4 linked regions of the Homo sapiens genome follow. The protein of the gene in region 1 interacts with the protein of each later gene in a pairwise test. Each region holds a gene or a part of one and is shown in the gene's direction. Other genes may lie near its edges. The genes, in order: SAXO4, RIMBP3, TFG and KRTAP19-5.

Region 1 (8,049 bases):
GTGGTGTGCTCTGGCCTCGGGAGCCTGTTAGGGCCTACCCCACTGATCCCAGCCAAGGAACTCTATGGGCTGAGACCCAGCATGTCCTCTCACTGGGTCCTCTCTGCTAACCTAGTGTGTCTGTAGCCTCTGCCTTCGTATGGGAGGGAAACAGGGGAATCTTTTTTTTTTTTTTCTGAGATGGAGTCTTGCTCTGTCGCCCAGGCTGGAGTGCAGTGGTGTAATCTCGGCTCACTGCAACCTCTTACTCCTGCATTCAAGGAGTTCTCCCTGCCTCAGCCTCCCGAGTAGCTGGGATTACAGGCGCCCACCACCATGCCTTGCTAATTTTTGTATTTTTAGTAGAGACGGGGTTTTGCCATGTTGGCCAGGCTGATCTCGAACTCCTGACTTCAGGTGATCTGCCTGCTTTGGCCTCCCAAAGTGCTGGGATTACAGGCATGAGCCACTGTGCCCGGCTGGAAACGGGAATCTTACTGCCCAGGACTGGGCAGAGCTAGAAAGTAGGAGGCAGTTGCCCATCTGGCCAGGGCAGCCCATCCCTTTGGAAAATCATCCCTTTGGAAAAGCCCAGTGCTAAGGTCCCGGCGCTTTCTGGAGAATTTGCTGGTGTGTTCCAGAGGGCGGGGCATAGATTCCAGGGTCAAAGCTGAGTTTGGATCCCAGCTCCACTCCTCCCTGTCTGCGAGGCCTCAGGCAGTTTCCTCACATGTAACATGGGCAGGATTATAGTAGTTCCCACGTAGAGCCGGGAGTGAAAAGCGATGATGAGGTGATTCGTAGCTCAGCTCTGGCACAATAAAGTGCTGAATAAATGGGGACAGATATGGGAAGGGAGTGGGATGAGGTGGGCCTAGATTTTCCAGTATGGAAGGACTTTTAGTCTGTTCCTTCATTTTGTAGATAGAAGGACTGAGGTCCACAGGTGACAGGTCCAAAAGTCACGCTGCTCTTGGGTCACCTGGCACCTGGGCTCCCGCTCCTTGTGGGCTCCAGCGCTTGCCCTCCCGGAACACTCCTTGCCCAGACGCAACCCTCCTGTTCTGGAGGGATGGGTGAGTGAGGCTTGGGGTGGGGCTGTGGCCAGGTCGACGGAGCTGCTCTGTCCCCAACTCCTAGGACCCCCCGACCCCGGTCTTAGGGATTCATCTGCGGCATCTCCTGCAGTTCCGAGTTATGGCCGCTGGGTGTCGCCACACAGCAAAAAACCCACGGGCCGCCGGGAGGACGGGACCTAATGGGGGCTCTGATGGGACAGCGCCGGCCAGACCCTGATCCCCGACCCTTGAACTCCTGCCCAGGTCCTTGGTCGGCTACAGCCTAGAGCCTCCCTAAGAGAAGCCCTAAGGGATGATTTCAAACCTTTCTACCACCCCTCCTTGCCCCCTCCACCTGCTAAAAGGAAAACCTGGCTACAGCCTACCTGGGGGCTGCTTCTCCCAGCTGAGCCTCTCCTCCCCACGCAGTGCTCCAGCCACGCTGCACTAGTCAGGGCTCCCAGCCTGCTGGACACCTGTCTCCGCCTTTGTGTTTGTCGGGCTTTCCACGTAGAGGGCCCTTCCTTATCTCTGCCTGGTGCAGGCCTGTTACCTCTTGTGCATAGGGTATTTCAAATCCACCAGCGACCCTGCTAGGTAGGCACAGTTATCCCTGCCTGCAGGTACAGAAACAGGCTCAAAGAGAGGAAGCCCCGAGTCACACACAGCAGAAGCAGGTTTTGAACTCGGGCTCCCACAGTGAGCTTTCTTTTGCTACATCTGAGATCCTTCCTAAACCGTGGGCTCTCTGAGGCCAGGGCCATGTGGATTTCCTGTTTGTAACCCTTAGGCCCAACCCTTTGCCTAGCAGGCAGTGAGTACTCAAAAGGAACCTCTTTCCCTAGCTCTTAGATGGCACCTACCGTGTGCCAGGTACTGGGCTAAATGCTTCGTGCGTACCACAACCCTGCAGGTAGTTACCATTATTATACTCATTCTCCAGAAGGGGAAACTGAGGCACAAGGAACATGCACTGTCTTACGGTTATCTAGTGGCAGAGACAGGACCCACACCATCTGGCTTCAGAGTCCAAGCTCTTGCTCGTAGCCACTTATCCAGGCACACTTAGAGGAGGGCCCCTCTCTCCCTTCACCCTGTGAGCACCTCACCTATGGTGGTCTCACCCTTTGTGCTTCGTGTGTGGAACTCCCACGAGCCTCTGTAGTAGAATGGGAGCACTTTGCTGGAGGGCAGGGCTGTGTGCACTCACTCCTGTGTCCTTGTGCCCTGTGATCCCTGAACAGAATCGTTAGTCCGGAGGGTGGGTGCCAAACGTGCTTCAGCTTGCCTTCCCATGGGGGGCTGGGTGAGGACACGAGTGAGCCTCCACCCTGGCAGGCCAGGTCACTACAGGATGAATGCGGCAAGGGCATCTCCTGGGTGAGGAAAGGAGATGCCTCCTTTCCCTTTATTCAGCCTTCATTCATACCTCACTCTCCCCTGAGAGCAGGGGTGCTCTGAAGCCAGCTCTACCGGCTCAGGAGAGCTGAAGGCGAAACTTCCAGGAAATTGGCAAGCTGGTTTTTAACTCTGCCATTGTTAAAAATTAAATTACTGGCCGAGCGCGGTGGCTGACGCCTGTAATCCCAGCACTTTGGGAGGCTGAGGCAGGCAGATCACTTGAGCTCAGGAGGTCGAGACCAACCTGGCCAACATAGTGAAACCCCATCTCTACTAAAAATACAAAAATTAGCTGGGCGTGGTGGCGTGCACCTGTAATCCCAGCTACTCAGGAGGCTGAGGCAGGAGAATTGCTTGAACCAGGAGATGGAGGTTGCAGTGAGCTGAGATCGTGCCACTGCACTCCAGCCTGGGGGACAGAGCAAGACTCCATCTCAAATAAATAAATAAATAAATAAATAAATAAATAAATAAATAAATAACTTAAACCTGCAATTTAATGAATTATATTAAAAACAAAAAAAAATACCTAAAACTCATCACCCCTTAATTATGTGAGTACATTTTTCTATTATTTGTGCTGTCGAGGTTACTTACGCCCATTATGTCTGCATGATGGGACTACTCCCGTACAGTGGTGAGCGACCTTCCCATGTCCCGGTTCAAAGACACTGTAGTGGTGGTTTGAAAGCAGCCCTGATGGGACCACTGACATCACAGAAATTGGCAAATGCTGCAAAGTAGGGCTATCCCACCCCACCCAGAGATCTAACTGTTACAACATTTACAAGCCTGAAAGCCAATTTGAGGCAAAAAGGCTGTCATGGAAGAAGATTCTCACTGTGGAGTTTGCGCACTCAGATTTGAGTCCAGGCTCCGTCTCCACCCACTGTGGGGCCTGGGCTATTTCCCCTTGAGCCTCGCCTTTCCTATCTGCAAAATAAGACTAAAAGTACAGCAGCTTTTGCAAATTGAGCATTTGCCGAGTGTGGTGGCTTGCCCCTGCAATCCCAGCAACTCAGGAGGCTGAGGCAGGAGGATCACTTGAGGCCAGGAGTTCAAGACCAGCCTGAGCAACATAGCAAGACGCTGTCTCTACAACAAATAAATACATAAATAAGCAAGTCAGGCAGGGGGGAGCACACCTGTAGTTCTGGCTACTTGAGAGTCTGAGGCAAGAGGATTGCTTGAACTTAGGAGTTGGAGGCTGGACTGAGCTATGATGGTACCTCTGTACTCCAACCCAGGTGAGAGCATAAGATCCTGTCTCTCTTAAAAAAAAAAAAGAGCATTTACTACCTGTCAGGTGCTGAATCCATGCTCTTGCTAAATCTGCCAGCAGCCCTGTGAGGTGGGTGCAGTCACGTCCCTTGCGAAGATGGGGATTTGGGGGCGTGAAGAGGATAAGTACCTCATCAAAGGTGACAGATCAGATTTGAACCACACTCTTAACTGCTGCGGTTTATTGGCCCTACAATAATAGTGCCCAGTTCACAGGGTGGTTTGGGGGATTACACGACGTAATGTGTGTTAAAGGGCTTAGCACAGATTCAGCTCCAGAGGAACATAGTAAATGTTGATTTACCGAGAGGCAGAAGAGCGGGATCCACATCCACCCACGTTTGAATCTCAACTTGGCTATTTTCTGATTGCGAGATCTCTGGAGTCAAGTCATTTTGCTTATCTAAGCCTCATGTTCCCCCAGTGAAAATGGGGATAATCATAGCTACTGAAGAGCTGCTCAGAGGATGGAGATAGAGGATGTAAAGTATCTGCCGAGAAGTGGGTACTTTATGGGAGTGAGTGTTCGGGATTATCTTTTATTTTATGTCACGCAGACAGCAACTCTTCCCAGCCCTGTGGAGGAGGCCGGAGGTTGGGGCCGGAGCCCTGGAAGCAGGGCCTTGCTCGGGCAGCTTCTGACCCTCCCCTCCTGGCCAGGTCAGCCCCTCAGTGGGCCCTGGCCCTAGAAGGTCTCAGAAGCCTGGGGACGCTGTTGCTAGGCACCAGTTGCTAGGCTACACATTGTTTCTCCTGCTTGGCCTCCTCCAGGAGGGCTGGCTTCTCTGCAGAGCTCTGCTTCCTGCAGCCTCTCCCCGACCTCAGAGCCTCTGCAGAGGAAAGGTGAGGGTGGGGCCGCTGTGGTTGGGCCTCGGGGAGAGTGCAGCCAATTCCCAGGGGAGGCAGGCAAGGCCAGAGGCGGGCAAGGCCATGGAGATGAGGGAGAGAGAGGAGCCGGGGGCTGGGAGTGAGCGCCTCGGCCTGACTTCTTGGGTGGGGGCCAAGAATTCCCCAGGTAGTGGGTTGTCGGCTCATTCATTCCGAGAGGTGGGTATGTAAGGTTCAGGTCAGGGGCCGAGTAGTCAAACACCTAGGTCTGAATCCCAGCACTACCACCTATTATGGAGCAAATCCTTTATCACTTGGAACCTCACTGTCCCAGTGGTAAATGGGGACAGGAAGAGTTAATAAGAAGGTGTGGGAAAGTGAGAGGAGACATGAGGACTCTTGGGATAAGTGTGGATGATCGGTTTCGTCCTTAGTTTAGGGACTTGGGAGCTGGGGCAGAGAGACAGAGGCCTGGGAGAAGGGGCCAGCTGCGTTGTGGGTGGTGGGGGGCAGATCTTCGCCCCTGTGGGCTTCCGAGCCAGGCTTGGGACCCATGAGGCTCCCCGTGCTTCCTTTCTAGGCCCCCTGGGGCCCTGCCCCACAGCATCATGATGGGGAAACTCCCCCTGGGGGTCGTCTCCCCTTATGTGAAGATGAGTTCGGGGGGCTACACGGACCCCCTGAAATTCTACGCCACCAGCTACTGCACCGCCTACGGTGAGGGTGCCTTTGCGCAGGAGCCTCTGCTAGGACATGGGCAGGAAGGGAGGGGCTCTCTCTGAGGGAGGAGCAGACCCTCTGGCTGTCACACTGCAGAGCAACTGCTGAATCCGTTTGTCCCCTGGGCCCTGCCCGGCTGCTCCCTTCTCTGGTTCTGTCCCTGCAATTCTGTCACTGTGATTCTGCCACACTGACCTTGTCCCCAGCCCACCCACTCCATTTCCTGCCATCACAGTCCTGAAAGGGCAGGCTTGCAAAGCTCCTGCCCGTGGCTCTGAGCCCTCCCCTGTCACTGTGACCCCTGTGCCCCTCGGAGGACGCTGGCCCTGCCTGGGAAGCCCTGCCTGTTTTTGACCTTGGGGTCTGTCTCCCCGTTACCCCTCTGGCAGGTCGGGAGGATTTCAAGCCCCGTGTGGGCAGTCACGTAGGCACCGGCTACAAATCAAATTTCCAGCCCGTGGTCTCATGCCAAGCCAGTCTGGAGGCCTTAGACAACCCGGCCAGGGGGTACGGTCTGTATGGCCCCTTCCCAGCCCCTGCCCTGCTCATCAGACCAACTCCAGGTTCCTTGGATGGGGACCCTGAGCTTTGCCTGCCCTAGGCTGGGGGTCCTGGGTGACTCAGGGCACAGCGGACCTCTGAGCCATCTGTGGGAGGGTGCAGGGAGGAGGGAAGCTCCTTAGCAGAGGACAGAGGCAGGCGGCCTGGGGTTCTAGCTCCTCCTCACCCTCAGGGAACAAGCCCAGGACCATTTCCAGTCTGTGGCCAGCCAGAGCTACCGCCCCCTGGAGGTGCCTGACGGCAAGCATCCCCTGCCCTGGAGCATGCGCCAGACCAGCTCAGGCTATGGGCGGGAGAAGCCCAGTGCGGGTCCCCCCACCAAGGAGGTCAGTGCTGGGCCAGGGCCAGGAGAGGGAAGCCTCAGGGTGGGGTGGGGCTAGGGCTGCACTGCCAACAGTTGGTCAAGGTGGAGGTGACAGGGCATGGAGCAGCCACCTTGTAGGGATGGGGTCCACTCATCTTTCTCCCCTTTGTCCTCATCCTTGTCCCCACCATCCCCACCACCTCTATTCCCTGCCCCAGCCCCACCATTACCTCCACCTCCATTTCCATCCCCATCCCTGTCCCCATTCCCATGAGCCTCACACTCCCGTCCACACCTGCAAGCCCCATCACTGTCCCTACTACCACCACTGTCCCCCCACCATGGACATCCTCACCCCATCTTTTTCATTTCTTTTTCTTTTTTTTTTTTTTTTTTTTGAGATGGAGTCTCACTCTGTTGCCCAGGCTGGAGTGCAGTGGCACGATCTCGGCTCACTGCAACCTCCACCTCCTGGGTTCAAGCGATTCTCCTGCCTCAGCCTCCCCAGTAGCTGGGATTACAGGCATGTGCCACCACACCCGGCTAATATTTTGTATTTTTAGTACAGACAGGGTTTCACCGTGTTAGCCAGGATAGTCTCAATCTCCTGACCTCGTGATCTGCCCGCCTCAGCCTCCCAAAGTGCTGGGATTACAGGCGTGAGCCACTGCGCCCAGCCCCATCTTTTTCATTTCTATCCTCATTATTACCACCCTTCTTATCATCAGCACCACCACCAAAATGGACACTCATTCATTCATCCAGCGAGAATGTTCTGAATATCTCCTTCATATTTGAAGATGATAAGAGCGGGTGGAGTGCGGGGTGGGGCGGGGGTTAGGAAATACAACAGGGAGAAGCAGGGAGGAAGAGAAGTGAAGGAGTTGGAGGCCAGGTGCGATGGCTCACACCTGTAATCCCAGCACTTTGGGAAGCTGAAGCAGGCAGATCACTTGAGGTCAGGAGTTTGAGACCAGTCTGGCCAACATGGTGAAACTCCATCTCTACTAAAAATACAAAAACTAGCTGGGCATGGTGGCACGCACCTATAATCCCAGCTACTCAGAAGGCTGAGGCAGGAGAATTGCTTGAACTCGGGAGGCGGAGGTTGCAGTGAGGCTGAGATTGCCTGGGCAATAGAATGAGACTTGGACTAAAAAAAAATAAAGCCAGGCGTGGTGGCTCACACCTGTAATCCCAGCACTTTGGGAGGCTGAGTCAGGTGGATCACTTGAGGCCAACTGCTGTTGGGTCAGCCTGGCCATCATGGTGAAACCCCATCTCTACCAAAAAAATACAAAAAAAAAATAGCCAGGTGTGGTGGCTTGCATCTGTAGTCCCAGCTACTTGGGAGGCTGAGGCACAAGAATTGATTGAACTCAGGAGGTGGAGTTTGCAGGAAGCTGAGATCATGCCACTGCACTCCAGCCTGGGCAACAGAGCGAGACTCTGTCTCAAAAAATGTAAGTAATAAATAAATTAGAAGCGAAGGAGTTGCAACTGCAAATCGGGAGGGTCGGGAAAGAGCTTGCTATGGAGACACTGGACAAAAACTTGAGGGAGGCCAGCTCCTCCAGTTGCAGCTGTCTGAGGGAGGAGTGGTCCAGGCAGTGCCAACAGCAAGTGCAAAGGCCTCAAGGTGGGAACAGAAAGGAGACAAGCAGCTAGAGCAGGGTGAGGCACTCAGGTCCTTGCAGGCCACCAGGAGGACGTGGAATTCCCTGCGAGTGTGATGGGAAGGCTGCAGGGCTCTAAGCAGAGAGGGGACATGCAGGTTTCATTGTAAAAGGACCCCCTCTGGCTGCTCTGCAGATACTGCGCTCTGTAAAGGTCAAGGGCAGAAGCAGAGTCAGGGAGTGACTGCCGCCCCCTCACTTGTAATTGGCCCTTCTTCCTCCCAGGTCCGGAAGGTCCATT
Region 2 (8,484 bases), on another chromosome or scaffold:
CTAGGCTGGTCTTGAACTCCTGAGCTCAAGTGATCTGCCCGTCTCAGCCTCCCATAGTGGTGGGATTACAGGCATGAGCCGTCACATCTGGCCTGTTGTTAATTTTTTTTCTTTTTTTTTTGACTCAGACTCTCACTCTGTTGCCCAGGCTGGAGTACAATGGCGTGATCTCAGCTCACTGCAACCTCCACCTCCTGGGTTCAAGCAATTCTCCTGCCTCGGCCTCCCGAGTAGCTGGGATTACAGGCACCTGCCACCATGCCCAGCTAATTTTTGTATTTTTAGTAGAGACAGGGTTTCACCATGTTGGCCAGGCTGGTCTTGAACTCCTGATCTCAAGTGATCCACCCACCTTGGCCTCCTAAAGTGCTGGGATTACAGGCATGAGTCACGGCGCCCAGCCTACAAAAAAAAAAATTTTTTTTTTTTTTGAGATGGAGTCTTGCACTGTCACCCAGGCTAGAGTGCAATGGCATGATCTTGGCTCACTGCAACCTCTGCCTCGCGGGTTCAAGCGATTCTCCTGCCTCAGCCTCCCGAGAAGCTGAGTCTACAGGCGCCTGCCACCACACCCAGCTAATTTTTTGTATTTTTAGTAGAGATGGGGTTTCACTATATTGGTCAGGCTGGTCTTGAACTGCCCAAAGTGCTGGGATTACAGGCGTGAGCCACTGCGCCCAGCCAGCACAGGAGTTTTGACCTGCTCCTTTTCGTTTTCCTTTTTCTTTCTTTCTTTTTTTTTTTTTTTTTTTTTTGAGATGGAATCTCACTCTATCGCCCAGGCTGGAGTGCAGTGGTGCAATCTCAGCTTGCTGCAACCTCCACCTCCCAGATTCAAGCAATTCTCCTGCCTCAGCCTGCCGCGTAGCTGGGATTAGGCATGCATGCGCCACAATGCCTAGCTAATTTTTGCATTTTTAGTAGAGACGGGTTTTCACCATGTTAGCCAGGCGGGTCCCGAACTCCTGACCTCAGGTGACCTGCCCACCTTGGCCTCCCAAAGTGCTGGGATTACAGGCATGAGCCACCGAGCCCGGCCAACCTGCTCCTTTTCTAACCTGGGCCAGTTCACCTCTCCTTAGACAAGCTGGTGGTTTCCTGCTCCCAGGAAGTCACCAATTTATGCCAAGTTTAGTGCAGACACCCCATCAGTATAGTACATTACAATCCAGAAGTCCTGGATCCAAGCAAGCCTCCTGCCTCAGCCTCCCAAGTAGCTGGGAGTATAGGTGTGTGCCCAGCAGTTCTATATTTCCAAGGAACCCTGGAGCCCTAAAGAACCCAGTTTGAAACCACCACTTTCAGGCTGGGCATGGTGGCTCATGCCTGTAATCCCAGCACTTTGGGAGGCTGAGGCCTGTGGATCACTTGAGGTCAGGAGTTCAAGACCAGCCTGGCCAACATGGCGAAACCTTGTCTCTACTAAAACTATGAAAATCAGCTAGGCATGGTGGCAGGTGTTTGTAATCCCAGCTATTTGAGAGGCTGAGGCAGGAGAATCACGTGAACCCAGGAGGTGAAGATTGCAGTGAGCCGAGATCATGCCACTGCACTCCAGCCTGGGTGACAGAGTGAGACTCCATCTCAAAGAAAAAAAAAAGAAACCATCTCTTTCATTTAATAGGTGAGAAAGTTGAACCTGGAGAAGGCAGCAGCATGGTGAGCTCATGCAGGGACTCCTGCCTCCCTGCAACTCATTCTCATATGTCTTGGGCACCAGTGATGTGCTAAGTCACATGCACGGATGCAATAGGGACAAGGGAAAACATGGCTTCTGCTCTCCCCAAGATCAGAGTTGATGGGGGTGACAGGCAGGTCACTGGACAATCACTGCACAACATGATGAGAACAGGGATGGCAGAAACCCAGCCCTGGGGAAGCCTGGCTTTGCTCATCCACTCAACCAACATTCCCGAATGCTTTTGACATACTTTGGGGCAGCTGCTGGATGGTAACTGTGGGGTTCCCAGAGACCCATCCACCCCAGTGTCCTTTTTCTTGGTGACAGCCTACTCTCTTTTTTTAATTTTAATTTTAATTTTTATTTTTGAGATGGAGTCTCGCTCTGTCGCCCAGGCTGGAGTGCAGTGGCGGGATCTCGGCCCACTGCAAGCTCCACCTCCTGAGTTCATGTCATTCTCCTGCCTCGGCCTCCCAAATAAGTGAGACTACAGGTGCCCGCCACCACGCCTGGCTAATGGCTAATTTTTTGTATTTTTAGTAGAGACGGGGTTTCACCATGTTAGCCAGGATGGACTCTATCTCCTGACCTCGTGATACGCCTGCCTTGGCCTCCCAAAGTGCTGGGATTACAGGAGTGAGCCACCGCACCAGGCTTTTTTTTTTTTTTTTTTTTTTTGAGACAGTCTTGCTCTGTTGCCCAGGCTGGAGTGCAGTGGTGCCATCACAGCTCACTGCGACTTTGACCTCACCTTGCAGGCTCAAGCAATCATTTCATCTCAGCTGGAAATGCAGACTGGGTCTCGCTCACTCTGTTGCCCAGGCTAGTCTCAAACTCCCGGGCTTAAGTGACCCTCCCATCTCAGCCTCCTGGGTAGCTGGCACTACAGGCATGCACCAGCACGCCCAGCTAAAATTTTTTTTGTAGAGACAGGGTCTCTCTATGATGCTCAGGCAGGTCTTGAGTTCCTGGGCTCAAGTGATCCTCCCACCCTGGTCACCCAAAGGGCTGGGATTACAGGTCTGTGCCACCATGCCCGGCCCAGCCTGCCCTCCTGACCTGACAGTTGAGGCCCTACTGGAGACTGCAGCAGGGCATCCAGGCTGTGAAACCCCACCCACCAGCTCTGCCTCAGTTGCCCATGTGCCCTGGCAAGCCAGTGGCTCTCACTGAGCCTCAGGTTCTCTTCCGTAAAACAGGGCTGTGATGAAGATTCTCTCAAGATAGTCCTCCCTGTGGCTACCATGCCCAGGAGCCCAGCACCAGTTCAAGGCTAAGGCCATCCCTGCATCTCACCTCCCCTTCCTCTCACATACACACTACATCTGCCTCACCTCTCATAAAGAACATCTGGGCTGGGCACGGTGGCTCACGCCTGTAATCCCACCATTTTGGGAGGCCAAAGTGGGCGGATCACAAGGTCAGGAGATCGAAATCATCCTGGCCAACATGATGAAACCCTGTCTCTATTAAAAATACAAAAATTAGCTGGGCGTGGTGGCGCATGCCTGTAATCCCAGCTACTCAGGAGGCTGAGGCAGGAGAATCACTTGAACGAGGGAGTTGGAGGTTGCAGTGAGCCGAAATCGTGCCACTGCATGCCAGCCTGGTGACAGAGCAAAACTCTGTCTCACAAATAAAATAAAATAAAATAAAATAAAATAAAATAAAATAAAATAAAGGGCCATGCGCCGTGACTCACGCCTGTAATCCCAGCACTTTGTGAGGCTGAGGCGGGCAGATCACAAGGTCAGGAGATCGAGACCATCTCTACTGAAAATACAAAAAAAATTAGCCAGGCATGGTGGCGGGCACCTGTAGTCCCAGCTACTTGAGAGGCTGAGGCAGGAGAATGGCGTGAACTCAGGAGGCGGAGCTTGCAGTGAGCAGAGATTGCGCCACTGCATTCCAGCCTGGGCGACAGAGCGAGACTCCATCTCAAAAAAAAAAAAAAAAAAAAGAACATCTGGAGCCATAATTCCCGATGTTCTTGTTACTTGACACTGCCTAAAGGCATGTTCTGTGGGTTCCGGGGAAACTGATTTGAAAAACTTGAGTGTTGTAAAGGAGGGCCATAAGCTGAGTGAACACAGCAGTTGTGAGAGGTCCCAGGTGCTTCCTGGGGACAGGGAGACACGACAGACCAAGAAGCAAAGGGGCCTCTGATGTGACTTCAATATCAAGGTCTTGTCGGGCACAGTGGCTCATGCCTGTAATCGCAGCACTTTAAGAGGCCGAGGCGGGTGGATCACTTGAGGTCAGAAGTTCAAGACCATCCTGGCCAACATACTGAAACCCTGTCTCTACTAAAAAGTACAAAAAATTAGCTGGGCATGGTGGCTCAAGCCTGTAATCCCAGCTACTTGGGAGGCTGAGGCAGGAGAATCTCTTGAACGTGGAAGGTAGAGGTTGCAATGAGCCAAGATTGCGCCACTGCACTCCAGCCTGGCGACAGAGTGGGGCCCCATCTCAAAAAAAAAAAAATCAATGTCTCGATGCAGACTGCCAGGTATCAGGTGTCCATCCATGTCTCCCAAAAGCCACTTGGCACCAGGAGCAGACAGGAAGGGCAAAGAGGAGCCAGACTGAAGCAGGGCTTCTTAGCTCCCAAGCCACACAGGTGGCCACCAGTCAGAGAGGCAGTGTGTGTGTGTGTGTGTGTGTGTGTGTGTATTTCTTCAGTTCAGTGTGTGTATGTATGTTTCTTCTGCAGCTCAGTGTATGTGTGTATTCCTTCAGCTCAGTATGTGTGTGTGTGTATGTTTCTTCTGCAGCTGTGTGTGTGTGTGTGTGTGTGTGTGTGTGTGTGTGTGTGTTTCTTCTGCAGCTCAGGATGCCTCCAACATTTCTGCTGAAGCCTCACCCTCACTCCTGGCCCATCCTGAGGCCTCTACCTAAGATGCCAATGAGTAGCCCAGACACTGGGGCTCCAGTGTTTGTCACCAGGTGGTACCTGGATGTGGGAGGTAGACAGGCCAGATGGCCAGTTTGGGCAGTGCCCCTCATGCCTATCTGGCCCTGGGTCCCTATGCCACCTTGCTGGGGAGGGTCTTTTCGCTTACACCTCCTCTGAGCCGACTCTGCGCAGTAACACAAATGTGTATCAGGCACATCCTTTCCTCAAAAGGTGGATGACCAGTTGGGTGATCAGGGCTGTTAGGGGGCTGAAGGGTCCTGGGGAGTCCAGGTCTAGCCAAGTTGAGGCCTATCCTGCTGCATTTTCCAGCCACCTGACCCAAATACACCACCTGAACCCACGACCAGGTATGCCCACACCCCATGGGTGGCCTTAACACACACACCCTGCCCCTTTCTCCAAGTACAGGAGCAGCAGCCCAGACTTCCCTCGGGGCACCGCGGCCTGCTTGGGACTGCACAGTGCCTGGGAGGGTGCCTGGGGAGGGTCACAAGGGACTTGGTGCTAGAAGCAGGAAAAGTGTAGGGACCGGAAAAGCCCCCGTGCATCCTGGAAGGGACATGGGCCAGTTTGAGCAGGGGTGTGGGAGTCCAGCCCTGGCCTTGCCAGGTGGAGAGGCGCCTGGGCCAGACATCCGCGGCAGGAGGCGGGGGAACATGCCAAGAGGCGGAAGGGGCACGCGGAGACCCCCAGGGGGCGCCGGAAGGGGCGCGCCGGGCGGTCGGCGGCGGCCGTTGGCGAGCTGAGGCCTGCCAGGCGAAGTCTGGAGACCAGCCGGGCCGCGGCCGCAATGGCCAAGGACTCGCCCAGCCCCTTGGGCGCGTCGCCCAAGAAGCCGGGCTGCTCCAGCCCGGCGGCGGCAGTGCTGGAGAACCAGAGGCGGGAGCTGGAGAAGCTACGGGCGGAGCTGGAGGCGGAGCGGGCAGGCTGGCGGGCGGAACGGCGGCGCTTCGCTGCCCGGGAGCGCCAGCTGCGTGAGGAGGCCGAGCGGGAGCGGCGACAGCTGGCTGACCGTCTGCGCTCCAAGTGGGAGGCACAGCGCAGCCGGGAGTTGCGGCAGCTGCAAGAGGAGATGCAGCGGGAACGCGAGGCCGAGATCCGGCAGCTGCTGCGCTGGAAGGAGGCCGAGCAGCGGCAGCTGCAGCAGCTGCTGCACCGGGAGCGCGATGGCGTGGTGCGCCAAGCCCGGGAGCTGCAGCGCCAGCTGGCCGAGGAGCTGGTGAACCGCGGCCACTGTAGCCGCCCGGGGGCGTCCGAGGTTTCCGCGGCGCAGTGCCGCTGTCGCCTGCAGGAAGTGTTGGCGCAGCTTCGCTGGCAGACTGACGGCGAGCAGGCGGCGCGCATCCGCTATCTGCAGGCGGCGCTGGAGGTGGAGCGCCAGCTCTTCCTCAAGTACATCCTGGCGCACTTCCGCGGGCACCCGGCTTTGTCGGGATCACCGGACCCCCAAGCTGTGCATTCCTTGGAAGAACCGCTGCCCCAGACCTCCAGCGGCTCTTGCCACGCCCCCAAACCCGCCTGCCAACTCGGATCTCTAGACAGCCTGAGTGCTGAAGTCGGTGTGCGCTCCCGCTCGCTAGGCCTGGTGTCCTCTGCGTGCTCCAGCTCCCCAGACGGCCTGCTCTCCACGCACGCCAGCTCCCTTGATTGCTTCGCACCTGCGTGTTCCCGCTCGCTTGACAGCACCCGGAGCCTCCCCAAGGCCTCCAAATCCGAGGAGCGGCCCTCCTCACCAGACACCTCCACCCCTGGCTCCCGGAGGCTCTCGCCGCCACCATCGCCACTCCCGCCGCCACCACCACCGTCAGCCCACAGGAAACTCAGCAACCCGCGGGGAGGAGAAGGCTCTGAGAGCCAGCCCTGCGAAGTCCTGACTCCCTCACCCCCGGGCCTGGGCCACCACGAGCTGATAAAGCTGAACTGGCTGCTGGCCAAGGCGTTGTGGGTGCTGGCGCGCCGCTGTTATACCCTGCAAGCGGAGAACAAGCAGCTGCGGCGTGCAGGCTGCCCCTACCAGGCAGACGAGAAGGTGAAGCGGCTCAAGGTAAAGCGCGCGGAGCTGACCGGGCTCGCGCGGCGCCTAGCTGACCGCGCCCGCAAGCTGCAGGAGACCAACCTCCGGGCCGTGAGCGCGCCTATACCCGGCGAGAGTTGCGCCGGCCTGGAGCTGTGCCAAGTCTTTGCCCGCCAGCGCGCTCGGGACCTGTCGGAGCAGGCGAGCGCGCCGCTGGCCAAGGACAAGCAGATCGAAGAGCTGCGGCAGGAGTGCCACCTCCTGCAGGCGCGTGTCGCCTCGGGTCCCTGCAGCGACCTGCATACTGGAAGGGGCGGCCCCTGCACCCAGTGGCTCAACGTCAGAGACTTAGACCGCCTGCAGCGCGAGTCCCAGCGGGAAGTGCTGCGCCTGCAGAGGCAGTTGATGCTTCAGCAGGGCAACGGTGGCGCTTGGCCCGAGGCGGGCGGCCAGAGCGCAACCTGCGAGGAGGTGCGACGGCAGATGCTGGCGCTGGAGCGCGAGCTGGACCAGCGGCGGCGCGAGTGCCAGGAGCTGGGCGCGCAGGCGGCCCCGGCGCGGCGACGTGGCGAGGAGGCCGAGACACAGCTGCAGGCGGCGCTGCTCAAAAACGCCTGGCTGGCGGAGGAGAATGGGCGGCTGCAGGCCAAGACCGACTGGGTGCGGAAGGTGGAGGCTGAGAATAGCGAAGTGCGCGGCCACCTGGGCCGCGCGTGTCAAGAGCGCGATGCCTCCGGCTTGATCGCCGAACAGCTGCTGCAGCAGGCGGCGCGCGGGCAGGACAGGCAGCAGCAGCTGCAACGCGACCCGCAGAAGGCCCTGTGTGACCTCCATCCTTCCTGGAAGGAGATACAGGCGCTCCAGTGTCGGCCTGGTCACCCTCCTGAACAGCCCTGGGAGACCAGTCAAATGCCGGAGTCCCAAGTTAAAGGTAGCAGAAGGCCCAAGTTCCACGCACGGCCTGAAGACTACGCAGTGTCACAGCCCAACAGAGACATACAGGAGAAAAGGGAAGCCTCCCTCGAGGAGAGCCCAGTTGCCCTTGGGGAGTCAGCCAGTGTCCCCCAAGTTTCAGAGACAGTCCCTGCCAGCCAACCTCTGTCCAAGAAAACCAGCTCCCAGTCAAACTCCTCCTCTGAGGGGTCGATGTGGGCCACCGTGCCGTCCTCCCCTACTCTGGACAGGGACACAGCCAGTGAGGTGGATGACCTGGAGCCTGACAGCGTGTCCCTGGCCCTGGAAATGGGGGGCTCGGCGGCTCCTGCTGCCCCCAAGCTCAAGATCTTCATGGCTCAGTATAACTACAACCCATTTGAGGGGCCCAATGATCACCCTGAGGGTGAGCTGCCCCTCACAGCTGGGGACTACATATATATCTTCGGGGACATGGATGAGGATGGCTTCTATGAGGGGGAGCTTGAGGATGGCCGGCGGGGGCTGGTGCCCTCCAACTTCGTGGAGCAGATTCCGGACAGCTACATCCCAGGCTGCCTGCCTGCCAAATCCCCTGATCTTGGCCCCAGTCAACTCCCAGCGGGGCAGGATGAAGCTCTGGAGGAAGACAGCTTATTATCTGGGAAAGCCCAGGGAGTGGTGGACAGAGGGCTGTGCCAGATGGTCAGGGTGGGCTCCAAGACAGAAGTAGCAACAGAGATCCTGGATACCAAGACGGAAGCCTGCCAGCTGGGCTTGCTGCAGAGCATGGGGAAGCAGGGCCTCTCCAGACCCCTTCTGGGGACCAAAGGGGTGCTCCGTATGGCTCCCATGCAGCTACACCTGCAGAATGTCACAGCCACATCAGCCAACATCACCTGGGTCTACAGCAGCCACCGCCACCCCCATGTGGTATATCTTGATGACCGAGAGCATGCC
Region 3 (7,979 bases), on another chromosome or scaffold:
CAAACTTATCCTACCTTCTTCTGCCTGTTTTGTGATAGCTGCACTGGCAGCTGATTGGGTGGTGCCCACCAACACTGAAGATGGGTCTTCCTCTTCTGGTTCACTGACTCAAATGTCAGTGTCCTCTGGCAACACCCTCACAGACACACCCAGAAACAGTACTTTACCAGCCATCTAGGCATTCCTCACTCTAATCAAGCTGACACCTAATATTAACTTAATTAATTTAAACTTAGCTAATTTAAACTTTTAATTGAGTATAATTTGGAGCTTAGTGCTCTTAAACCCACTGAGTAGATAATAACAGATTATAGGCCATACTAGGAATGTAAATGCAAGGTTCTTAAAAGTTCTGGTAAGATGTATCAGTGTGCTCCAAAGACCACCAGGAACACACCTGTAGTTGAATGAAGTTGGGTTTACTGACTTACTGCAGCAAGGGAGAATGAATACCACGGAGAACAATAGGATGTCTTACAAGTATGTTAGAAAAGTATTTTTTTTTGGGCTTGGGTTTGTGTTACCTGATTTTGGATAAGGTTCAAGGAAGTAGAGCTTTGCTCTGCATTGGATGCTCTCAGGAAGTAGAGATGATTCTATGTTTGGGTATCTTATCAAATCTTATCTAGAAGGTGAGAGGAATGAATCTTACTAAATCTTATCTGGAAGGTGAGAGGAATGAATTGAGGCTAAAGCTGCAGTTGGTAAAGTAGTAGCAGTTACTCATATTAGCCAGGATAAAAGGTTGTTTGGTCATTTTTCTGGTGTGGTCAGTGTTCTTGTTTTTGTCTGGAGTTTTGACATGGTTATGGACTGTTGATCTATCACAGATTATAGTCTTGTGTGATGTTGGTGTTCTTTGAAATATTTATATTCAACGGGAGAACACCACAGCCTACCTGTGAGTGCCAGGCCAGCTTCCAGCAACACTAAGGCCTGTCTTACTGTACCAGACCAGTTTCTGGCTGCTAGGAGCTGTTTTTCTCATCAAATATTGGAGAAAAAACAGTAATACCAAGTGAAAACCAATAATTGATGTAGGTAGGAGATTGTATTGAACTTCATAGCTATGCAGGGAGTATGTGAATTACTGTGAGTTTTCTTCTAAAAGCTTATAATTGGTGGTTTGATTTTGAAACATGTTTAACAAAGAATCGCCCTGAACTTTTATTTTCACGTAGATGTCCTTTTCTAATTAGGTGCTTCAGGAGTTTGTATGTATGTATACTGGCAATGTGCAAAGCATTTTAGTTTAATTTTTGAACGCCTGTCTTGGGGTTTGCAATCAGAGCCTTGTGTCACTTTCTTTTTAAAAATAACCTGAGTGGTGACAGTGTTTGTTGCTGAATGAAGGATTTCATTTTTTTCAGTCAACTGAAAATCATTTGGACAAAATGAATAATAAGTGAAGTAATGTTGCTTTCATTAAAAAATCACAACTAGAGATTACCGAGTAATCTCTGGCATTTTGTGGCTTATATACTGTTTCTGGAAGTAACTGCTTTGAAGGACAGTCATGATGTAGATAAGTTCTGCATATATTTTTAAATTTATATTTATTTTTTAAAATTTTTTGAGACAAGGTCTCCCTCTGTCATCCAGGCTGGAGTGCAGTGGAGTGATCTCAGCCAACTGGACTTCCCCTCCCGGGATCAAGCAATCCTCCCACCCCAGCCTCCTGAGTAGCTGGGACTGCAGGCATGTGCTGCCACACTTGGCTAATTTTTTAAGGTTTTTGTAGAGATGAAGTCTCACTGTATTGCTCAGGTTTTTCTTGAACTCCTGGGCTCAAGCAGTTCTCCCTCCTTGGCTTCCCAAAGTGGTGGGATTACAGGTGTGAGCCACCATGCCTGGCCCTGCATATATTTTTTTAACGATTTCTTTTAAGATCAGCTATTTTAGTTAGCTGTTTTTTTTCAAGACAAAGTTATGCAAGAGGGATAACAGACCTATCAGTCATGTTATATCTTTAAACATGTATAGAGTAAGGTATTTTTGTATTATTTTAAGAATAGCGTGAAATAAAATGAGCTTTTTAAGTTATATAATTTTTATTAAATTTAATAATTTCTATTAAATTTAATAAATATTTAAGAACAGCATGAAATAAAGTGAGCTTTTGAAGTTATGATTTTTATTAAATTTAATCATTTCTATTAAAAAGTAGAGCTCGGATTTTCCTACCAAACCTTTTTACCAGTAAGGTCATAGGCTATAGGTATGGCATCAAGAAAGACTGATAATTCTGCTTTTTTTCCAAAATAAGTTATTAGCCATAGAGAATTCTTTTTTTTTAAAAAAAAAGTTACTCCATTACATTGATATCTTGTTTTTGTTTTTTTAAAGGAATTGTATTTATTTTTCCTTGTTGCATATTATTAGTATACTTATTCATGAACTTCTAATTTTAAGCAAATAAATGTTTTTATTTCAGTTAATGGCCAGCCAAGACCCCTTGAATCAAGTCAGGTGAAATATCTCCGTCGAGAACTGATAGAACTTCGAAATAAAGTGAATCGTTTATTGGATAGCTTGGAACCACCTGGAGAACCAGGACCTTCCACCAATATTCCTGAAAATGGTAAACCCTGAATCCATTGTATTCTGACTTATTGTTCTTACGTCTTTTTGGAGGTTTTAAAAAACTCTTTTTAAGTAGGAGAAGGATGGCATCCCCAATGTCACTCTTGTTTCTTCCTCTGCCTCTCTACTAGTATTTATGTCTGTGTTCCTAAACTTTGCTGTTCATCAGAATTACTAGGAGGTTTCATTATACCAATTTCTGGATCTCATCATAGACCTACTGGAGCGTAGCACCTGGAAATCCCATTTTTAAAGTGTTTTTTGGGTGATTCTTTCGCAACTAGTCTTAGACTTTTGGATTTGTTACACAGGTCAGTTTTCAAATCCTTTTGACACATGAACCCTTTTTAGTATAATAGATAAGTAATGAACCTTGGGAATTGAAAATCATTTCATGAATAATTACATAGTGTTGGAAGTATTTTCAACTAAAAATCACTTAGATTAGTAATGTTCATTAAAAATGGTATGTTGTAAATTTGAAACACAGTTTTTAATAATAATTAAAGAAAAACTAATTTTTTCCCCATTGTATAATGACATGTACTGTTTGTGTTAAGATAAAGCAAAATGTGTCAACATTTGGAACTGACATAATTTTGGGACCGAATGTATTTTAAAATGTGGACTGAACTTTAAGTATGTGTTAATGACTTGAAAGTACAGTTAAAAAACTGCTTTCTTCTTTTAAGATTCTTAGATGTTGCATTTAAAGAAAACTCTTATTATTATTTTTTTCTTTTTACAAATTCTTTGTTTGCTTATAATTTTCATAGTTTAAAACTGTCCATATTGTGAAATAGTAATTTAAAAAAAGTCTAGACTGGATGACTGCATATAAAGGGCTTAACATGAGATAATTTTTGTGGATAAATGGTATGTATTCTATTTTTGGCCACTAAATATTTTGGAAGTTTTTGTTTTCTATTTTTATTTTAGTTACAGTTTAAATAAAGATGTATTTTCCATCATTTCTCTCTTCCTGTCTTCTAATAGTCATATGGAATTATGTTAATGATAGATGTTTAATAAATATTTGGTGATTGATTATTCCTAGTTGCACTTCTATTTCAGAACATAATGGAGATTTGCTGAATACTATAATGAGATCCTCTTGGTCACTTTATGATGAAACCTTTTATATTTCAGGTCAAAGAAGGTTGCCTATTCTGAGCCCTACCTCTCCAAACAAAAATTTCCAATTTTAGATCAAGAATCAATGAAAAAGTTAGACAATTTTTCCAGAAGAATTCATAGATGCTGACACAACATTTGCATATAATTTCAGGGGATTTAACCATCTGCAGAATATTAAGAAGTGTAGATGAGAATTTAACCAGTATAGCCAATACTGTTCAGAAATTAGCTACAGTGGCCCACATTCTACTCTAAGGAATGGATTTATGAGTTTTTTGCTTTAGGTGAAACTTTTTCCTCACCTCTTTCTTGCTACTGTTTATACTTTATTCTTTGTGTCTATATTTTTTATACATACTGTTAGCTTTTTACCTATGTTAATGTAAAAGGTGTTAAAATTGGTTTCTTCTCTGCATTTTGGAAATCATGCCATATGTTGTTTTCTTGTATGGCCATTTTCTAGTTATTGTGTCCTGTCTGACATATCTGATGATAAGATGATATAAGAATAATACAATCTGCATTATATTTTTAGAGATAGTTCTTATTTTTTTAGAAAACAAAAACAACAAGAAAACCATACATCAGAAACTGAAATCTAGTCCACAAAATGAAATTGCCAATCAGCTATCAGTGCTATTTAGAACCTGTGGCTTACCCTCACCAAGAAATGTGGCCACCTGTGGTCTTCAGCTCTCTATTACAGCGGTTCTTGGATGCTTGTTTTCCTTTAAGAGGCAAATGATGTGTAAACTACCTTAGATAGAAGATTGACCTGTTGCAGTATCTCCAGCAGCTAATGGAGCAAGTAGTAGGACGTATAGTATGTTTCCTGATGGTTTTAGTTTGTGATAAGTGAAAAGAGGCATAGGTAGTGAGATGTGAGGGGAAACAACTTGTAAGACTGACGTGGTATGCTCTTGGGATTAGAGGAAGGAAGTTGGTAGGGAAGATAGATAACTGGTAGACATGTTTTAAAGGAATACTTCTAGTAGTAGTTTTCTTTTTCCAAACATTTAGAAAATATTAGGGTAGCCTGGAATGGTATGTTAGGAATGAATGAGCTGCCAGCCAGTGTGTGCTGTGGGTACTTATATTCGGTTTAGCACTTAACATTTTTTTCAGAAGATACATTTTGTATTGATTACAGGGGTGATCTAAGAACTGATGTTCATTTACTTGCTTGGTAACAAAAGTGATAATCATTGTCCCTTAATTGAGTAAATGGTTAGCAACAGTCTTTTTGTTTACTTGTTCGTGTTTTTTGTTTGTTTCTTTTGATGTCTTTTGTATCTTGGACTTGGATTCCTATTTGTAAAATGTATGTTAAAATTCTTGAACTCTTTTTCTTTCACAAGACAGTAGTATAAATGCCTGTGGAATATCTTAGTATCCTGAGAAGAAAAGCATGATTTTAAATTTAACCTGCTCATAATATTTGACATTTTGTTTTTCTGTTGTTGTTTTAAACATTTTATTATAGAAAAGTTTAAGTATATAAGAAAGTAGACATTATAATGAATCCCAGAAACCCACATCCAGTTTCAACAGTTACCAACTTATAGTATCATATAATTACACTATACACATTTCCGCCCCTCCTGTTACCCAGAGTGGAGTACAATCTCAGCTCACTACAAACTTTGCCTCCTGGGTTCAAGTGATTCTCGTGACTCAGCCTCCTGAGTAGCTGGGATTACAGGCATGCATCACTGTGCCTAGCTAATTTTTGTATTTTTGGTAGAGATTGGGTTTTGCCAGGCTGGTCTCGAGCTCCTGACCTCAAGTGATCTACCCACCTCGGCCTCTCAAAGTGCTGGAATTACAGGCATGAGCTGTTGCACCCGGCTCCCCTCCTGTATTATTTTGATGCAGATCCCATATACATCATTTCATCTGTAAGCATTTTAATAAGTATTTTAATAAGTAATACATATTAAAATAGAAGGTAGCAAATTCAAAAATGTTTTTAATGTGCTATTTATGGAAGATTATGAATTAATTATGGTTGGCTTGATTTCCATGTAATTTAATAGTGGACCAGTAGACAGTAGAAATAAAATGTAAAATTTGAGATTATAACCTTAGTTCAGTTTCTTTTTATAAAATAAAGCCTTAGTTCCTATAATTATTATTTCCAGAGTGCCCAGTGGGTATCTGATACTAGGATATAGGTTATTGGGCTCCAAAAAAACCAAAAAAAGTAAAATGTTTCTCTTTATCAAGGAGCTTGTATTTTTTTCATCTAATGTTTCTTACAAAAGGAGGTAAATAATTTTTTTGGAAAGCTTTTGTTCATCTTCTGTTTCTTTTTGCCCTCTTCTCCCTGTTACTAGAAGGAAAAATATAAAAAAAATAAAGGAATTAAAATGATCTGTAATCCTATATTCCGACATGCTTAACATTCCAGACTATCATTATACACCTGCATTATTTCCCTTGTACTTTTAGGCCTTACTGAATATAGATAAAAAGGAAACAAGTTTTTGTTTATTCCTCTATTTTTACAGATACTGTGGATGGTAGGGAAGAAAAGTCTGCTTCTGATTCTTCTGGAAAACAGTCTACTCAGGTTATGGCAGCAAGTATGTCTGCTTTTGATCCTTTAAAAAACCAAGATGAAATCAATAAAAATGTTATGTCAGCGTTTGGCTTAACAGATGATCAGGTTTCAGGTAAGTTGGTTTCCAACTCCTTTACACCCTTCGTTTCCTTCATCTTTCCGTTCTTCCCTTTCCTTCTTTCTTTAATTGAAGAATAACTTGGATATGGTGAAGTGCACAAATCTTAAGGGTTCTGCTTAACAAATTTTTACATATGTGTACACTTATGTAAAAGACTAACTAGATTAAGATGTAGATGATTTCCAGCACTTCAGAAAGCTTTCTTATGTCCTCTCCCCAAGAGTAGCACCCTCCCCCTTAAAGAATAAGCACTGTTGGGTTCAAGTAAATTTTTGAAAGTAAAATTTAGAAAGTTTTTAAAAATCTGAACTATTTTATAATTTGATTAGTTGCAGTATTCGAATTATATTTGATTTGTCTTATCTCCTCATCTTAGAGAAATTGAAAATTAAATGTAGATTTTCTTGTTAAATTGCTTGAGTATACAGTGGGTTTTTATATAAATAAGTTTTTAACCTTAAAGCAGTACCTATATTGTTTTATTCTGTTTAACTTTTGGTTATAATTTCTTCATTATTTTTTCCTGCTTTTTCTCTTTTCGGATTCTAATAACACATACATTGGAGAGCTTGATACTGTCTCATGGGTCATTAAGGTTCATTTTTCTTCAGTCTTCTCTCTGTTCTTCAGGTTGGGTGATTTCTGTTGAACTCTTCAAGGTCGCTGTGATTTCTAATATGCTGTGGAACCTTTCTAGTGAATTGTTTAATTGTGCTTTCAGCTCTAGAATTTCCATTGGGTTTTTATAGTTTCTGTTTTTCTGTTGAGATTCTTTATTTTACATTCATTAAGTCTATATTTTCCTTTAATTGTTTGAATGTATTTATGTTTGATTCTTTAAAAATATTTAGCTGCTTTAAAATGTTTATCTGCAATATGTAACACTTGGACCCATTTGGAGTCAGTTTCTATTGACTGGGTTCCTCTCCCCCACACACACTCCCCCCAACTCCAGTAGGGTCACATTTTTCTGTTTCTTTGCCTGTCTGATAGTGTTTGGTTGAAAACTAGACATTCTGGTTAATATGTTGTAGTGACTTGGACTTATATTCTTTTGAGGATTTTCTGTTATTGTTGATCTAGCAGGGAGTTGATTTGTATGGACTTAACATAAATAACAAACAGAAAAGCGCTCTCTAAAAGAAAAAGGTATTTGGGAATAGAGCATTGCATTGAAAATATGCATGCCATAGTAAACTATGTGCATATTCAGTGAGGTAAAGGCAGACAAAGGTTTTTAAAGGAAAAAATGAGGAGAATATATAATTGTTTTGAAATAATTATTGTTGGCTACAAAGATCATTAGCAAGAGTGATGCCAGTCTGAGGTTGGACAGGCAGTTTCTGGGCAGATGTCCTCACAGTCACAGAAGTTTTTTTTTTTGCTTTTTTTTTTGCAAAGTTGTGATGGCCTTTGTGTAGGCTTGTGGTTTTTGAACTCTTTTGTGATAGTTTTTGCAAGAATCCTCTCTTCATGGCCTTATCAGAGTTTTTAATTTTTTTTTAACATTAATGACTTCATTTTGGTTTTGATAACTTTCACATACTCAAAACTGCTCCTTCTTTCTCCCTATGG
Region 4 (6,059 bases), on another chromosome or scaffold:
GATTCTGTATTTAGAAAACCCCATCGTCTCAGCCCCAAAACTCCTTAAGCTGATAAACAACTTTAGCAAAGTCTCAAGATCGAAAATCATTGTGCAAAAATCACAAGCATTCCTATACACCAACAACAGACAAGCAGAGAGCCAAATCGTAAATGAAATCCCATTCACAACTGCTACAAAATGAAGAAAATAGCTAGGATTACAACTTACAAGGGACGTGAAGGACCTCTTCAAGGAAAACTACAAACCAGTACTCAAGGAAACAAGAGAGGACACAAAGAAATGGAAAAACATTCCATGCTCATGATAGGAAGTATCAATATCATGAAAATAGCCATACTGCCCAAAGTAACTTATAGATTCAATGCTATTCCCATCAAGCTACCATTGACTTTCTCAGCAGAATTGGAAAAAACTACTTTAAGCTTCATATGGAACCAGAAATGAGCCTGCATAGCTAAGACAATCCTAAGCAAAAAGAACAAAGCTGGAGACATCACGCTACCTGACTTTAAACTATACTACAAGGCTACAGCAACCAAAATAGCATGGTACTGGTACCAAAACAGATATACACACTAATAGAACAAAACCCAGACCTCAGAAATAACACCACACATCTACAACCATCTGATCTTCAACAAACCTGACAAAAACAAGCAATGGGGAAAGGATTCCCTATTTAATAAATGATGCTTGGAAAACTGGCTAGCCATTTGCAGAAACTGAAACTGGACCCCTTCCTGGGGAAATTCAATAATACAAGGACAAAAGAAGTGAGAGCTGGACCAAACGTTAGATTATTACAGATTGTACCGTGCTGCCCCCTATAGTACAGGTGAGGAAATGCCGAACAGTTAAGTGATGCCTAGAGTTAAAATCTAAGTGTCAGAATCAAGACCAGAAAGCAGTTCACCTGAACCTAATGCTCTAGTCCATCATTCTGAGTCTCTTTCACTGCATAATTCCAAATCTGAATGCCATCTGGAAAGTTCTTGTAATAATACTGTGGATGGTTTCAATTTTGGAGCAGAGTATATGGAGACTAATTTCATCTCTTAGATTAACTATGTTTTGTTGCTGTTGTTTTTAAAATTTTTCTTGTTAACTTTTATTTTGTTATATATAATACATTTCTGAATTGCTAACTTAGCTTTACTTGAAGGCAAAAACAGAACAAATAAGCTCAATTCTCAAGATTATTTATTTTTATGAGAAATACTTGGGTTTGTTTATGCAATGTAAAGATGAAATATGAACAAACAACTCAGACAAATCTTGTTATTTCTCTCTTTAGATGCTGTACCTTCACAGGGGAGGGCAAGGTAGATAAATTTTGGTAATTTCATTAAAGGAATTTTGACCCTATAACTGAATTTCAGATGAAACTGCTCTATTCTCATACAGGTAAATATCCTCCCAGCCTGAGTAAAAGTATTAAAAATTTGCAATTAAAAGAAAGATCAGTATAATTATAATGAGAAAAAGCACTTGTGGCATTGCTGGTATAATTCAATATTAACATATTTTTGTAACTTACATTTTTATATATTATTAGTTTGTGTCTGAGTTAAACGAAGTCTTTGGAATTTATAACAAAAGCTTTCTTTCTTTCCAGGTAAAAGTTACTACTTATCCCAAGTAAGAACATATTTTCTTCTTCCTTATCCATTATCATAAAGTTATTAAGCATATATTCCAAAGTAAACTTCCTAAAAGTGAAAAGAAGGAGAAAATATAAAACATCATTGTTCTATCAACTTTGGGTCTAATCGACTTTGAGTCTAACAATCTCTTTCAGCATAAAACCAATATCACTACAAATGAATATATGTCTTCATTTTACAATGGATGCTTTCATTTTACTATTTGTTCACTTCGAAAAAAGGACAAAATATTTGTTCTATATATTTTGTATATAAAATATGTAGATTTATATATTTTATTTTAGTATTAATCATTTACTGCTTACGATCATTAATTGGTCTTGTGGAAAATTATCACATAGTCTATTTCTTTAAAACATTCTAATTCTTATTTGGCTATTGAGGTTTTCCATTTATATCTTGTTTGGTTTTATATCTCAGATGTATGCATTGTTTATGCATCCCAAACAAAAATTAGCTATTAAACACTCTTACATTATCAGGCTGATTTATATGGACAAACTGTGGTATCCTTAATATAGTTATTTGTGATTTTGAGTTATTTGTGATTTTATGGCTTCAAAAGGACTCACTGAGAACTCAGCTTATTGACTGTTTCAAGTTCAGATGAGAAATAAGAATGAACCAATATTTGGATAAAAGAAATGTAGCAAATATTGGATTAAATCCTACTCTATAAATGGAAAGACTTATTGAGCTATTTTTCTGTCTTAAAAAGGTAGCTCACTAAGGCGTAGTCAGGGTTGTGCACAGATTGTGGTTGCTGTGGCAGTTACTGTCAATTTACTTAGAATTTCTTCAATAAACAATTTTTAATTCCCTAGTCTGTTGCTTAGAAGAACTGAAGCATTCCTTTTAGGAAATTTATGTTTGATAAAATACTTATAAATCTCACAAAAACTCACCAGCATGTTCAAAGTCATGTAAATTAAATGAATTTTTAGTTGTCGAAGCCAAGAGACAGGTGCTGCATGGAGATTAATCAAGAGTGGTCTCAATGTTGTATCTGTTTCACTAATTCAACAAAGTCAGCTGAGGAACTCTATGAAGCCCAGGGCAAATTTCTTTACATATGTTTCTCTATTCTGTGCCATTTCACCATGGTGCCTTTATTTTGAAAACTTTGAAGACAATTTCTATTTTAGGATACCTTTTAAATTTCAGAAAGCCATAGGAGTTGGAGTACATTTTAAAAAACCCATCCCCTCAAGTATTTATCTGTTGAGTTAACAAACAGTCTAATTTTACTCAAGACATTTTAAAATGTACAATTAAGTTGTTATTGACTATAGTCACTCTATTGTGCTATCAAATAGTAGGTCTTATTCATTATTTCTAAGTATTTTTGCTGGGGTGGGGAGTTGAGGATGTTTAGTAAGTACAAAAAATAGAAAGCTTTAAAAATGATATTTTAATGAACTATTAACAGATCAGTAGGCAGTGGTTAGAAATTACCTCAGAATAAATGAGTACAGGATAGACATAGAAGAACATCAGAATCACGCCTGTAATCCTAGCACTTTGCGGGGCCGAGGCGGGCAGATCACGAGATCAGGAGATCAAGACCATTCTGGCTAACATGGTGAAACCCCGTCTGTACTAAAAATCCAAAAAAAATAGCCAGGCGTGGTGGCGGGCGCCTGTAGTCCCAGCTACTGGGGAGGTTGAGGCAGGAGAATGGCGTGAACCCGGGAGGCGGAGCTTGTAGTAAGCCGAGATGGTGCCACTGCACTCCAGACTGGGCGACAGAGTGAGACTCCGTCTCAAAAAACAAACAAACAAAAAAATCAGGAAAGATGTTACAGTGAATACAAAGAGGAGATAGAAAAAAAAAAGCGTTGAGATAAGTCGATGGAAGACAGAGGGAATGTATGCAATAAACTTCTACCTGGCTGTTTCTATAGACATTAAGAAAATGGGAAGAAGAATAAAAGCTGAAATGAGAAAGGAAATAGAGGTCATATATACACTACTGAAAAATGATAAAGAAAGAAAGTAATTGACTAGAATGTGCAAAACAGAGGCAGATGCAATCTGCAATTTTACCAGGACTTTGAATAAAACCAATTATAAAGGAGAGTTTTAGGACTTGAATGGAAAACTAAAGTGCTACTCTGATAAGTCTGCGTAGGAGATGGATTTTGTGCCCTCAATTTCTGAAATTAATTCTTATGTATTTTGCAACCAAAAGGTTCTGAAGCTGGTGTGCAAAGTCAAAAATAGTATAAAAGTTATTGTGAATAAAATGCTAAAAATCAGCATACACTCTCTTTTTTTGAGTCCTTTGGCGATTGTACACAGCAGGGCATTAAAATCATTTTGATTTCAAATGTTTTCCTGTATTGTGCATATAGGCACTTTCTGAAGACCTCACCTTGATAAATAAGTTTGCTTTTTAAAACTATAGATTTAACATCTGTAAATTGAAAAAACAGCTGTAAATTTAGTTGAATATGAAGTTATCAGTTTGGAAGATGACGGACAAAGGAAATTATTCATTATAAAAGGAATACCATAAAGTGTAGATGATGTAATACACCTGGTAATAGGCAATTCTGTTGAGCATTTGGAATGTGCATATTTTGAACAGTAAGCCCTTTCTTTTCATAAAAGCAAAGCAGTAAGTTCAATCGTGTCCTGAATAAGACATTAAGTAAGCTGAAATATTTTAATGAGAATGAGGGCATCTCCCTACATCAGAAGACAATAGATAAATGAGTTGTAACATCAAACGTAATACAAATAACTATAGCAAAGGAGGGTATACAGATGACTCATCACACGCTCTGACCAGGGTATATAAGCCTCCTACACATGCTGGTGTTCACACTCAGGATCTTGCCTTGAGCAGCATACCAACTCACCACTCCTGACACCATGAACTACTACGGCAACTACTATGGAGGCCTGGGCTACGGCTACGGAGGCTTCGATGACCTGGGCTATGGCTATGGCTGTGGATGTGGCAGCTTCCGCAGACTGGGCTATGGCGGTGGCTACGGAGGCTACGGATACGGCTCTGGCTTCGGAGGCTATGGATACCGCAGCTGCCGTCCATCATGCTATGGAGGATATGGATTCTCTGGATTTTATTGAAATCCTTCCCTGACAACCTAACATGAGGGGACATAAGAAGATCACCCAAACCTGACTGCAATAACAAACAAACGAGGTCACCCTGGATCAAGCCAAGATCAAGAGCAGTTAGCATCTAAGAGGTTTAAGAATACCTATCATTCCATAATTCTTTGCTTTATGTCTCTGGATGTGTCTTACTTGTACCTTTATAACTGTGGGGTTTCTCTGTTCCTTTTAGAATAAATTATGCTAACTGAAAGCAAATACACGACTTTTGTTTTTTGCTTGACTCAAAATGGCAAAGTGGTTATTTGTAATTATATCCAGTGAAAAAAGAACAAACTACTATACATATAGAAGTATATTATATATAACAAAATAATTTTGTATATACATGCACCTATCTATATAGCTGTATGTATGTGTGTGCATGTATATATTCACATTCAAAGGTCACAGTTGACCCTTGAATAATGTAGGGGTTAGCAGTACTGATTCCCCCATGCAGTTGAAAATCCACATATAACTTTTGACTCTCCAGAAACCTAACTACTGGTAGCCGACTGTTGACTGGAAGCCTCACTGATAACATAAACAGTTGATTAACACATACTTTGTGTTTTATATGCATTATATACTGTATTCTTACAATAAAGTAAATAAGAGAAAAGAAAATGTTATGAAAATAATAAGGAAGAGAATTTATATTTACTGTTTGTTAAGTGGAAGCGACTCATCATAAAGGTCTTTATCCTCATTGTCTTCACATTGAATAGGCTGAGGAGGAGGAGGAACGGGGACGATGGTCTTGCTATCTCAGGAGTGGCAGAGGTAGAACAAAATCTCAGTATGAGTGGATTCACTCAGTCCAAGCCCATGTTGTCCAAAGGTAAACTGTACATGCACAAATGAAAACCATAACACTCAATTAAAAAGAAGGCTTTTTCTTTGGAACACTGCGCCATATTCACCATATCTTTTTCATTTCAATGCTTTCAGTGAGATCATGTTAGTGTTTAAATTCAGCCTTGAAATACCAACTTCATAAACTTTCACATTTAACTGGAGACCAACATGAAGAGTATGTATTTCTATAGTTTGTTCAAAATGTATGTTTATATGGCCCCTTTAATGGTAAGAAAAGTGCTGATAAAACAAAGTATATATCTGAATATACACTGAAAAAGAACTTATTTTTGTGACTTTTTTTTTTTTTTGAGATGGAGTCTTGCTCTGTCACCCAGGCTGGAGTGCAGTGGTGCAATCTCGGCTCACTGCAAGCTCCACCTCCCAGGTTCACGCCATTCTCCTGCC

Evidence for each region.
Region 2: the proteins of SAXO4 (region 1) and RIMBP3 interact in binary tests that used the Homo sapiens proteins (3 or more experiments, as listed by UniProt).
Region 3: the proteins of SAXO4 (region 1) and TFG interact in binary tests that used the Homo sapiens proteins (3 or more experiments, as listed by UniProt).
Region 4: the proteins of SAXO4 (region 1) and KRTAP19-5 interact in binary tests that used the Homo sapiens proteins (3 or more experiments, as listed by UniProt).

The regions. Positions count from the first base shown.
Region 1 is NC_000011.10:61,476,655-61,484,703, forward strand, and holds the start of SAXO4 (stabilizer of axonemal microtubules 4), read left to right. Parts: upstream 1-4,465; 5' UTR 4,466-4,562; intron 4,563-5,127; 5' UTR 5,128-5,155; coding exon 5,156-5,264; intron 5,265-5,656; coding exon 5,657-5,774; intron 5,775-6,000; coding exon 6,001-6,154; intron 6,155-8,033; coding exon 8,034-8,049.
Region 2 is NC_000022.11:18,608,339-18,616,822, reverse strand, and holds the start of RIMBP3 (RIMS-binding protein 3A), read left to right. Parts: upstream 1-4,903; 5' UTR 4,904-5,388; coding exon 5,389-8,484. UniProt on the Homo sapiens protein: Probable component of the manchette, a microtubule-based structure which plays a key role in sperm head morphogenesis during late stages of sperm development.
Region 3 is NC_000003.12:100,726,278-100,734,256, forward strand, and holds part of TFG (protein TFG), read left to right. Parts: intron 1-2,434; coding exon 2,435-2,581; intron 2,582-6,230; coding exon 6,231-6,395; intron 6,396-7,979. UniProt on the Homo sapiens protein: Plays a role in the normal dynamic function of the endoplasmic reticulum (ER) and its associated microtubules. Required for secretory cargo traffic from the endoplasmic reticulum to the Golgi apparatus.
Region 4 is NC_000021.9:30,500,576-30,506,634, reverse strand, and holds KRTAP19-5 (keratin-associated protein 19-5), read left to right. Parts: upstream 1-4,493; 5' UTR 4,494-4,544; coding exon 4,545-4,763; 3' UTR 4,764-4,978; downstream 4,979-6,059. UniProt on the Homo sapiens protein: In the hair cortex, hair keratin intermediate filaments are embedded in an interfilamentous matrix, consisting of hair keratin-associated proteins (KRTAP), which are essential for the formation of a rigid and resistant hair shaft through their extensive disulfide bond cross-linking with abundant cysteine residues of hair keratins.